2 separate regions of the Homo sapiens genome follow, and region 1 is reported to be linked to region 2. Evidence: microRNA targets listed by miRTarBase, many of them from high-throughput screens and not tested one by one. Region 2 holds a microRNA gene; the other region holds the end of a gene's coding sequence. Distances are from middle to middle.

Region 1 (5,170 bases), 12 Mb from region 2:
TGCACTTCATGCAATGAAATGAATCCCCCCCTTCCATCACATTGCAACAGATGTTGGGCCCTTCGTGAGAATTGGCTTCCTGAAGATAAAGGGAAAGATAAAGGGGAAATCTCTGAGAAAGCCAAACTGGAAAACTCAACACAAGCTGAAGAGGGCTTTGATGTTCCTGATTGTAAAAAAACTATAGTGAATGATTCCAGAGAGTCATGTGTTGAGGAAAATGATGATAAAATTACACAAGCTTCACAATCACAAGAAAGTGAAGACTATTCTCAGCCATCAACTTCTAGTAGCATTATTTATAGCAGCCAAGAAGATGTGAAAGAGTTTGAAAGGGAAGAAACCCAAGACAAAGAAGAGAGTGTGGAATCTAGTTTGCCCCTTAATGCCATTGAACCTTGTGTGATTTGTCAAGGTCGACCTAAAAATGGTTGCATTGTCCATGGCAAAACAGGACATCTTATGGCCTGCTTTACATGTGCAAAGAAGCTAAAGAAAAGGAATAAGCCCTGCCCAGTATGTAGACAACCAATTCAAATGATTGTGCTAACTTATTTCCCCTAGTTGACCTGTCTATAAGAGAATTATATATTTCTAACTATATAACCCTAGGAATTTAGACAACCTGAAATTTATTCACATATATCAAAGTGAGAAAATGCCTCAATTCACATAGATTTCTTCTCTTTAGTATAATTGACCTACTTTGGTAGTGGAATAGTGAATACTTACTATAATTTGACTTGAATATGTAGCTCATCCTTTACACCAACTCCTAATTTTAAATAATTTCTACTCTGTCTTAAATGAGAAGTACTTGGTTTTTTTTTTTCTTAAATATGTATATGACATTTAAATGTAACTTATTATTTTTTTTGAGACCGAGTCTTGCTCTGTTACCCAGGCTGGAGTGCAGTGGCGTGATCTTGGCTCACTGCAAGCTCTGCCTCCCGGGTTCGCACCATTCTCCTGCCTCAGCCTCCCAATTAGCTTGGCCTACAGTCATCTGCCACCACACCTGGCTAATTTTTTGTACTTTTAGTAGAGACAGGGTTTCACCGTGTTAGCCAGGATGGTCTCGATCTCCTGACCTCGTGATCCGCCCACCTCGGCCTCCCAAAGTGCTGGGATTACAGGCATGAGCCACCGCGTCCGGCCTAAATGTCACTTAGTACCTTTGATATAAAGAGAAAATGTGTGAAAGATTTAGTTTTTTGTTTTTTTGTTTGTTTGTTTGTTTGTTTGTTTTGAGATGAGTCTCTCTGTCGCCCAGGCTGGAGTGCAGTGTCATGATCTAGCAGTCTCCGCTTCCCGGGTTCAAGCCATTCTCCTGGCTCAGCCTCTGGAGCAGCTGGGATTACAGGCATGCACCACCATGCCCAGCTAATTTTTGTATTTTTAGTAGAGATAGGGTTTCACCATGTTGGCCAGGCTGGTCACGAACTCCTGACCTCAAGTGAGGTCACCCGCCTCGGCCTCCCGAAGTGCTGGGATTGCAGATGTGAGCCACCATGTCCAGCCAAGAATTAGTATTTAAATTTTAGATACTCTTTTTTTTTTTTTTTTTTTTTTTTTTTGAGACAGAGTCTTGCTCCATCACCCATGCTAGAGTGCAGTGGAGTGATCTCGGCTCACTGCAACTTCCGCCTTCTGGGTTCAAGCTATTCTCCTGCCTCAGCCTTCCAAGTAACTGGGATTACAGGCATGTACCACCATACCAGCTGATTTTTTTGTATTTTTAGTAAAGACAGGGTTTCACCATGTTAGCCAGGCTGATCTTGAACTCCTAAACTCAAGTGATCTACTCACCTCAGCCTCCCAAAATGCTGGGATTACAGATGTGAGGCACCTGGCCTCAGATTTTTGATACTCTTAAACCTTCTGATCCTTAGTTTCTCTCTCCAAAATACTCTTTCTAGGTTAAAAAAAAAAAGGCTCTTATATTTGGTGCTATGTAAATGAAAATGTTTTTTAGGTTTTCTTGATTTAACAATAGAGACAGGGTCTCCCTGTGTTGCCCAGGCTGGTCTCGAACTCCTGGGCTCAAGAGATCCTCCTGTCTTGGCCTCGCAAAGTGCTAAGTAGGATTACAGGCGTTAGCCACCACACCCGGCTGTAAAAATGTACTTATTCTCCAGCCTCTTTTGTATAAACCATAGTAAGGGATGGGAGTAATGATGTTATCTGTGAAAATAGCCACCATTTACCCGTAAGACAAAACTTGTTAAAGCCTCCTGAGTCTAACCTAGATTACATCAGGCCCTTTTTCACACACAAAAAAATCCTTTATGGGATTTAATGGAATCTGTTGTTTCCCCCTAAGTTGAAAAACAACTCTAAGACACTTTAAAGTACCTTCTTGGCCTGGGTTACATGGTTCCCAGCCTAGGTTTCAGACTTTTGCTTAAGGCCAGTTTTAGAAACCCGTGAATTCAGAAAAGTTAATTCAGAAATTTGATAAACAGAATTGTTATTTAAAAACTAACTGGAAAGATTGTTAAGTTCTTTCTGAATTATTCAGAAATTATGCATCATTTTCCTTCAAGAATGACAGGGTCAGCATGTGGAATTCCAAGATACCTCTTGACTTCCTCTCAAGCTCCGTGTTTGGTCAGTGGAGGCCCATCCGAGCTCAGCACTGAGAAGTGTTAGTTTCTTTGGGACCCATCTACCCTGACCACATCATGATGTTCATCTGCAGCTGTTGCAAGGTGTTCAGATTGTATAAACATAAATGTCACAAAAACTTTAAAAGAAGTGCAATTCTCAAAAGGTTAGGTGGACTAAAGCATTCTGTAAAGCAACTGCTAATAATGAGCTTACAGTGGATTTGAATTTGAAAAATATAGTAACAAGCCTGTCAAATATCTGCAAGAACTATGGAATAAAACTACTGATGCAGTGAAGACAGTTGAAAAGATCAAACAAATGCCAAGCTATATTTATAATGAACAAATTCAAGAAAAAGGACTACGGAAAGTTCAGGACATCAAAGAAGTCAGGCAAAACTCATCTTGACCCCTGTTGCAGGCAAAGGAACGCAGCTGGAAGAAAAGATGATATAACAGTTAACAGGATGCAGACATGGCAGAGGTTTCCTAAAAATCTCATTATCTATAACCATTTCTATATTTACATTTGAAAATCTCCTTTGGAGACTTAGAACCTCTAAATTATTGACTTATTTTTTATATAAGGTCACTCCGATGAAAGGTGATTACAAAATCATCTACATTGCTGTCTACAAAACAGATAATATGGATGTTTGATCGCATCTCATTGTTAACTCTTTACTGATATGTTTGTAAATACAGAAGTGAAATGTGGACATAAAATAGTTACGCTATTTGGTTAATGGTACTAGACAACATGTAATTAATGACATTCAAAAATTTATGGCTAGTGATATATATAAAGTAAAATTTTCTTTGCAGTAAAATATGCCCTTTATTATAGAAGGGAGGATATAAGGAACCAACAGTTTGTATGAAAATAGCTCAAATAATATCTTTTATTTTGATTTTAATATTTCTTATTTTGGTTTATTAGTGTCTTAGAACAAAATGGCCTTATATAATGAAGCCTAGTTATGCTGGACTGTTTTGATCTCTTTTAATTGTTCTGACAGATAGTTGGGGATGAGAGCCGAATAAGGTTTGCCTGAAATAACTGACACTATATAATTTCTGCTTTGGCAAATACTAAGTTCTAACTTGTCATTCCTGGTAGAACAAGCTTTATTTTTCGAGCCTAGCAATGATCTAGAAGCAGATGTTATCTCAGTGCCTTTTGCAATTTGTTGTGTGGGTTTTTTTTTTTTTAAAGCCACACAATAATTTTGGAAAACAATGTATGGGTAGAACATGTGTCTGTTAATTGCACACAAAACCACTTTTAATGGGTACAGAGTTAAATTTGAAGGAATAAGTTCTAGCTGAAGTATTATGAACTCCAAATAATGCTTTGAGGACCTCCAAAGGTAAAAGTACTAATCCCTTTGGCCATTTATTGAGAGAGAGAGAGAGAGAGAGTAGGGTGACTATAGTTAATGTATTGAATGTTCTTGCTACAAATAAATGATATTTGAGCTGATGGGTGTGCTAATTACACTGATTTGATCAATACCCATTGTATGTGAAACAGTACATACACCATATTTACAATTATGTATTTAACATTTAAAATTTCTAATATAAGTATCTCTCAAACTGTGGATTAACTTCTTGATTTATATTTAAATATGAATCTTAAGCAAAACAGTGAAAATAACCATCTTGATTTAGTGTTTTTCTCCCATATGTGAATTGTATATACTTAGGTGAAGACAATAAAATCAACTGAACTGTAAGCTTAGAATAGGACTGAGGTAATTCTGCACAGCAACTTTACTAATGGTACATTGTTGCTTCAAAACTCTCTCTCTCTCTCTCTGTCTGTCTCAATAAATGGCCAAAGGGATTAGTAGTTTACCTGTGGAGGTCCTCCAAGCATTATTTGGAGTTGATAATACTTCAGCTACAACCAAGCAGAATCTCTTTTTTTTGGAGGTCCTCGAAGCATTATTTGGAGTTGATAATACTTCAGCTTCAATTTGGAGTTGATAATATTTCAGCTAGAACCTAGTAGAATCTGTTTTTTTCCTTTGGAGGTCCTCAAAGCATTATTGGAGTTCATAATACTGAAGCTAGAACCAAGCAGAATCTGTTTTTTTCTGAGGAGTATCGGTAGCATAAATGTGATTATAAACATAGTACACTTGATATATGGAGGCAGTGACAGCTATTTTTACAAAATTTAAATCTGCAAATGGATTCAACATGTTTATGGGTTATTAAAATTGTCTGATTTCTTAGGTTCTTTATAGTACACGTGTTGAAAATAAATGATTAAGAATTGTTTCAAGAATGCAATTATTTGATCTTAAATTTTTATGAGTTGTTAAAATAGAAATTATTTGAATATCATATATTTGGGTAACAAAAGGCACAAGTCTGAATGTGTTTCTTTTTCTGGAATGGCCATGCCTGCCCACTTTAGAAATACAAATATCACTGGGCAGCTTGAAGCAGTTGGGAGCCTCCAATGAGAGCAACTTGAGAGAATGATGTTGCAAGTTAGTAGGAGTAAGAAATGCTGTGTTCTCCCTGTCTTCTCTTAGGTCACATGGCAG
Region 2 (5,173 bases):
GACCTGTGAGGCTGATGCCCTGGCCCGGCAGAGGGCAGGGCCTCCTCCCACCACCGCCGAAGGCTCACCACACTCGGGGGACTCATCAGAGCCATCTGCACAGTCACGGTCGTGGTCACACACGAAGTGCTTGGGGATGCACTGGCGGTTCTGGCACATGAACTCACGGTCGTCACAAGTGCTGTTGTACACTGTGGACAGAGGTGGACACAGCCCTTCAGCCCTGCCTGGCCAGCGGCCGACCGTCCCTCACTCTAACCTCCTGTGGTTCTCCTGGTAGAGTGGGCAGGGCACTGGATGAGGAGTCTGGACACCTGGGCTACAGCTATGGCTCCGCCCCCAGTGGACCCCGCTGAGGCATTTCCTCTCCTGCACCCCGGCTTCCCCATCTGCAAAGTGAGACTGTGGCCATTTGCTGTCCACCCGCTCCACGTGGCCCCGCCACTCACAGCAACCAGCTGCGATGCTCTCGTCTGCACCATCAGCACAGTCTTTGTCACCGTCACAGAGCCAGCGCTCGGGGACGCACACGTGGGTGCCAGGGCAGGAGAAGGAGGAGGGGCCGCACGTCTTGCCTTCTGTAGGGGGAGAGAGGGCCACTGAGAGACTTAGGAGCGGGTAGATCAGGTCTAGCAGTGGAGGTGATGGTTCGCCGTCGTCTGCAGGGGTGTCTGTGTGTGGGGTGGAGTTGGGTGGGGTCTGTCCCTCCCTGGGGCACCTCCCCCGGCCCAATCCCAGCTTCCTTACCACAGTGAGCAGCCTCGTCTGAGCCATCCCCACAGTCATCGCTGCCGTCACACAGCCACTGCTTGGAGATGCAGCGATGGTTCTGGCACTCAAACTGGGCCTCTGAGCAGAACTTGTCTGGGGCAGTCAGAAGCCACAGTTAGATGGGGAAGGGTGGGGGTCACCCACCTGGGGAGGCTGATGCCATGGGAAGGACAGGAGAGATGCCCACAGCACCCCTCTGTGGGGGGGCTCAGCAGCAGCTAGAGGCAGAGTCTCTGAGTCTGACCTCAAGAGTTGGGGTGTGGGGCAGGGGGTTGAAGGCTCTGGATGCCCTTTTCCAAGGGGGCATTTGCTGGGGGGGACTAAGAAGTGGGGCCCAGCAGGCTCTTGGAGCACTGAGTGGGTGCAGTGGTCACTCACTGCAGTGGGTCTCGTCCTCGCCATGTTCACAGTCATCCTCTTTGTCACACGTCCAGCTCATGGGGATGCAGCGCCCACTAGGGCAGGCGAAGTAATTCAGAGGGCATCTGGGGCGTTTCACACCTGGGGGGCGAGGCAGGTGTGAGGGCCCTGCTCACCGCAGGCCACCACCCACCACACACCTGCCCCCGCCCACCTGGGCAGTCGCGCTCATCACTGTAGTCCCCACAGTCATTGGCGCCATCACACACCCAGCTGGGTGCGTAGCAGAGTGAGGTCCGCTCGCAGGGCTGGAAGAGCACGCCCTTCACGCCCAGGCGGAAGTAGCTGCTGCAGTCGGTGGCACCTGGTGGGGGCAGGGGTGAGGGTGATACCTGGTTCCCCCTGGATCACCCCCGACTGGGGCAGCTGCCAGCCCTATGGAGCCTTCATGTGTTTCCAAAAGTTGAACGGTGCCCTTCTGGTGGGGCACTGTCTGCACCATCTGCTCACTGCCCCCTCTCGGAACCCCACGAGAGCCCAGGAGCAGGAGCGGGATGGGGACAGGGCCTCAGGGAGATGGAGGCTGTCAGCGGGGATGAGGGAAGGCAGAGAGGAATGTGGGCAGGTGCAGGAGGGCCTGAAGGCGGGAGATGCAGTGAGCGATGGGGAGGAGCCCAGGAGGTGCCAGCAAAGGGCGTCACTCACTGCAGTTCATCTCATCTGAGGCGTCCTCACAATCCACAAACTGGTTGCAGCGGCTGGAGTTCCCGATGCAGGTCCCGTCCCGGCAGCGGAACTCGCCCACACCACAGGCTGTCTCTAGAACAGTGCCCGCCCCGTATCGTCAGGCCAGAGTTTTCTCTGTGGGGGCCAGAAGGACGCAGGACAGAGCTCCTGGCCCACAGCACCTGCCCTGGCCTGTCACAGAGTGCCTTGAACCAGACACCACGGGGCCCAGGGACAAAGCTTGGCCAGGGAGGGGTGGGGCAGGAACTGAGGTACAGATGGGTTATGCCAGTGCGCCTCACTCACTGTTGCAAGGGATCTCGTCAGAGCCATCCCCACAGTCGTCGGCCCCGTTGCACCACAGCATGTTGGACACACAGCGCCCATTGCTGCACTGCCGGAAAGTCTTCTTGCAGCGGCGGGAGTCTGCAAATGGAGGAGTAGGCTGCGTGTCAGCCACAGGCACAGGGAAAGGGCTGCCTCCCTGAGACGTCATGCACGTGTCCAGCTGGCCACCCCCAAACCCAAAGGCCCAGTCCAGGCTAACAGTGGTTCTGCCCTTCATGAGCTCCCAAAACTCATGGTCAGGAAGCTGGGTCCTGATCCTGCTCCATCCTGCAGGGGCCTGGGGGAGGAGGACCTGGGCTCTGGGCCTGGAAGAGGCAGGGGCTGCAGGGGGCTCCTTACTGCAGTAGGATGGCTTCTCATCGGACTTGTCCTTGCAGTGGGGGACGCCGTCGCAGGTCAGGCTGAAGTTGATGCACTCGCCATTGGCACACTCAAACTCATCTTGTGCTCGGCAAGAGGAATTCACCGCTGGGGAGGGAGGTGGAGGGAGCTTTCTGAGCCAGCGCTGTGGGCCCCAGTGCCCACGCCTCCTCCCCCGGGGAGCTGAGGTCATCATCAGCGTCTTCTTGGCAAAAGGCTTTGGGGGGCTGGGCTGGAGCATGTAGGGGAGATGGTCACCATCCCTGGTGTGTGCTTGGGTTCCCCGCCAGCCCCTCCCCCCCGCCTCTCTCACCTCGGCAGGTGAGGTCATCCTGGAGGATTCGGCCCCCTCGGCATGAGCAGTTGACATGGCCCTGGTGAGTGAGCAGACACAGGTCCTGGCAGCCACCGTTGTTGATTCGGCATGGAGAGAGTTCACCTGAGCAGGGACAGGGTGGGCGCAGGGCTGGAGAGTGTTCTCTGCTGTGCATGCACCCAGAGTGCACCCACCCATTCACTGACTTCATGGAGCTCCCAAGCCTCTGCTCAGTCACGGCAGGCACAGCGGCTTGCAGCCAGTGGGGAGGGCATGGGGATGGCTGCTGTGGGAGGGCCAGGTGCATGGGGTTTTCGGCAGGTGTGCCGTTGAGGATGTGTGTGCTTTTAGGCAGGGCACCGTGGGCTTTGAGGAGTGTTTCTGAGAGATTCGAGTCTGAGGGCCCTGAGATCACGGGTGCAGTAGTGAGCCCCAGGGCGCATGGGAGACACCTGGGAAAGCTGCAGGTCTGTGGTGGGGGGCGCTGGGGCATGTACTCGTGCCCACTGAGGGCACGTGCACCCAGGCTCTCGGCTGTCTGTGTGGCTCCAAGTGAGGAGAGTGACCAGGGTGAGGGTAGGGGCACCGAGGGCATGGATGAGCCCTGAGGGGCGGGTGTGACATGAATGTGTGTGTGCAACGTGGAGGAGATGCCAGGCGTGTGCAGAGTCCATCTGTGTGCGTAGATGCCTTGGTGGGAAGGGGTACAGGAGCACTGGGGGTTTTGCGGTTCCAAAGGTGTGTACAGCTGTGTGTGTCTGTGTAATGGAGGCCCAGGGAGAGCAGGACCAGGCAAGTGTGTGTGGGGTGTGGTGTGTGGGGTGTGGGGTGTTTATAGTATGTCTGTGAGATGTGTGTGTGTGTGTGTGGCATGTTTGTGGTACGTGTGGTGTGTGGTGTGTGTGTGTGCTGTGTGGTGTGTGTGTGATGTGTGTTGTGGGTGGTAGGTGTGTGGCATGTGTATGTGTGTCCTATGTGTGGTGTGTATGTGTCATGTGTGGTGTGTGTATGTGGTGTGTGTATGTGGTGTGTGTGTGGTATGTGTAGTGTGTGTGGTGGTGTGTGTATGTGGTATGTGTGGGGTGTGTGTGGTATGTGTGGTGTGTATGTGGTGTGTGGTGTGTGTGTGGTATGTGTGTGGTGTGGTATATGTGGGGTGTGCATGTGATATGTGTGGTGTGTGTATGTGGGGTGTGTATGTGTGTGTATGTGTTGGGGGTGTATGTGTATGTGGTGTGTGGGGGGTGTGTATGGTGTGGTGTGTATGTGTTGAGTGTGTGGGAGGGGTGTGGTGTGTGTATGTGGTGTGGTGTGTGTAGTGTAGTATGTGTGGGATGTGTGTGTGTGGTATGTGTAGGGTGCGTGTGGTATGTGCGATGTGTGTGTGGGGTGTGTGTTTGTATGTCCATGCACGACAGGCAGGAGGGTGAGGCAGCTGGCGGCAGCCCCACTCACAGCTGTTGGTGTCGTTGGCCACGGCGATGATGCCCATGGGCTGCTGGGGGATGTCCACGCGCAGCAGCTTCATGTTGCTGCCCACGTGCTTGTTGGCCCGCTGCACTGCCCGCCGCACCCAGTCAGTCCAGAAAATGTGCTCCCCATACACGGCCAGCCCGAAGGGGTGGACAGGCTCTGACTTTAGGATCACCTGTGGAGACAGCACCATCACCGTCACAGCATCGCTCAGGCCTCTTGCCCAGTCTCCACCGGACCACAGCCTGGCCTGGCCTCTGACAGCTACAGAATGAGGGCCCGCAGAGGCATCCTGCTATCTCCCTCGTCTAGCTGATGAGGAGCAAGCTGGACAGGGTGGGGTTGACCGAGGCTGGGGCCTGGAGGCACTCACCTCCTCCCAGCTGTTCCCACCATGTCTGTGCCTGGACGGTCTTGGTTGACGGCTGACCCTGGCCCTGGCCTCCCCTCAGCCGCCCGCCAGCTCACCCACCCCGCAGACTCACATAGCGGTGGGAGCCGTCATACTCGCACCGCTCGATCTTGTCCAGGGTGGCGTCAGAGAAGTAGAGCTTCTCGGCACGGTGGTCGATGGCCAGGCCATTGGGGGTACGGATGTCCTTCTCGATAAGGGTCAGGACATTGGCTCCCGAGAGCGCCGCCCGCATGATGCTGGGATGCTGCTCATTCCAGTTGGTCCAGAACATGAGGCTGGGGGAAGAGGGTCCAGAGATCAGGAGGCAAAGCCTGAGAATCCACAACAGAGGGCACAGGCCAGGACGCGTAGGCACCTGGAACCTGGAAGCCTGCCAGGGCAAAGCCACCCCAGAGCCATAGAGG

What was found. Region 2 holds the annotated microRNA hsa-miR-1228-5p (GUGGGCGGGGGCAGGUGUGUG, at 1,325-1,345, opposite strand). A microRNA usually pairs through its seed, bases 2 to 8, with sites in the 3' UTR of a target mRNA and lowers its output. Matches are read on the target gene's strand: a 7mer-m8 pairs with bases 2 to 8, a 7mer-A1 pairs with bases 2 to 7 and ends in A, and an 8mer does both.
Region 1: miRTarBase lists MDM2 as a target of hsa-miR-1228-5p. Seed matches in the 3' UTR shown: 7mer-m8 at 1,100-1,106.

Annotation. Positions count from the first base shown.
Region 1 is chr12:68,839,286-68,844,455 of GRCh38, forward strand. MDM2 (MDM2 proto-oncogene) reads left to right here. Exons shown (of 11, transcript NM_002392.6): 11 at 1-5,170. The coding sequence ends at 564. It also overlaps a transcript of CPM not described here. Among named protein-coding and RNA genes, the nearest start is that of MDM2, 34 kb to the left of the region's middle.
Region 2 is chr12:57,190,676-57,195,848 of GRCh38, reverse strand. MIR1228 (microRNA 1228) reads right to left here and starts at 1,345; the gene lies at 1,273-1,345. LRP1 (LDL receptor related protein 1) reads right to left here. Exons shown (of 89, transcript NM_002332.3): 43 at 4,840-5,044; 44 at 4,337-4,529; 45 at 2,879-3,004; 46 at 2,545-2,673; 47 at 2,164-2,283; 48 at 1,837-1,950; 49 at 1,346-1,495; 50 at 1,150-1,272; 51 at 748-864; 52 at 450-578; 53 at 69-191. RefSeq lists an enhancer at 2,790-3,289.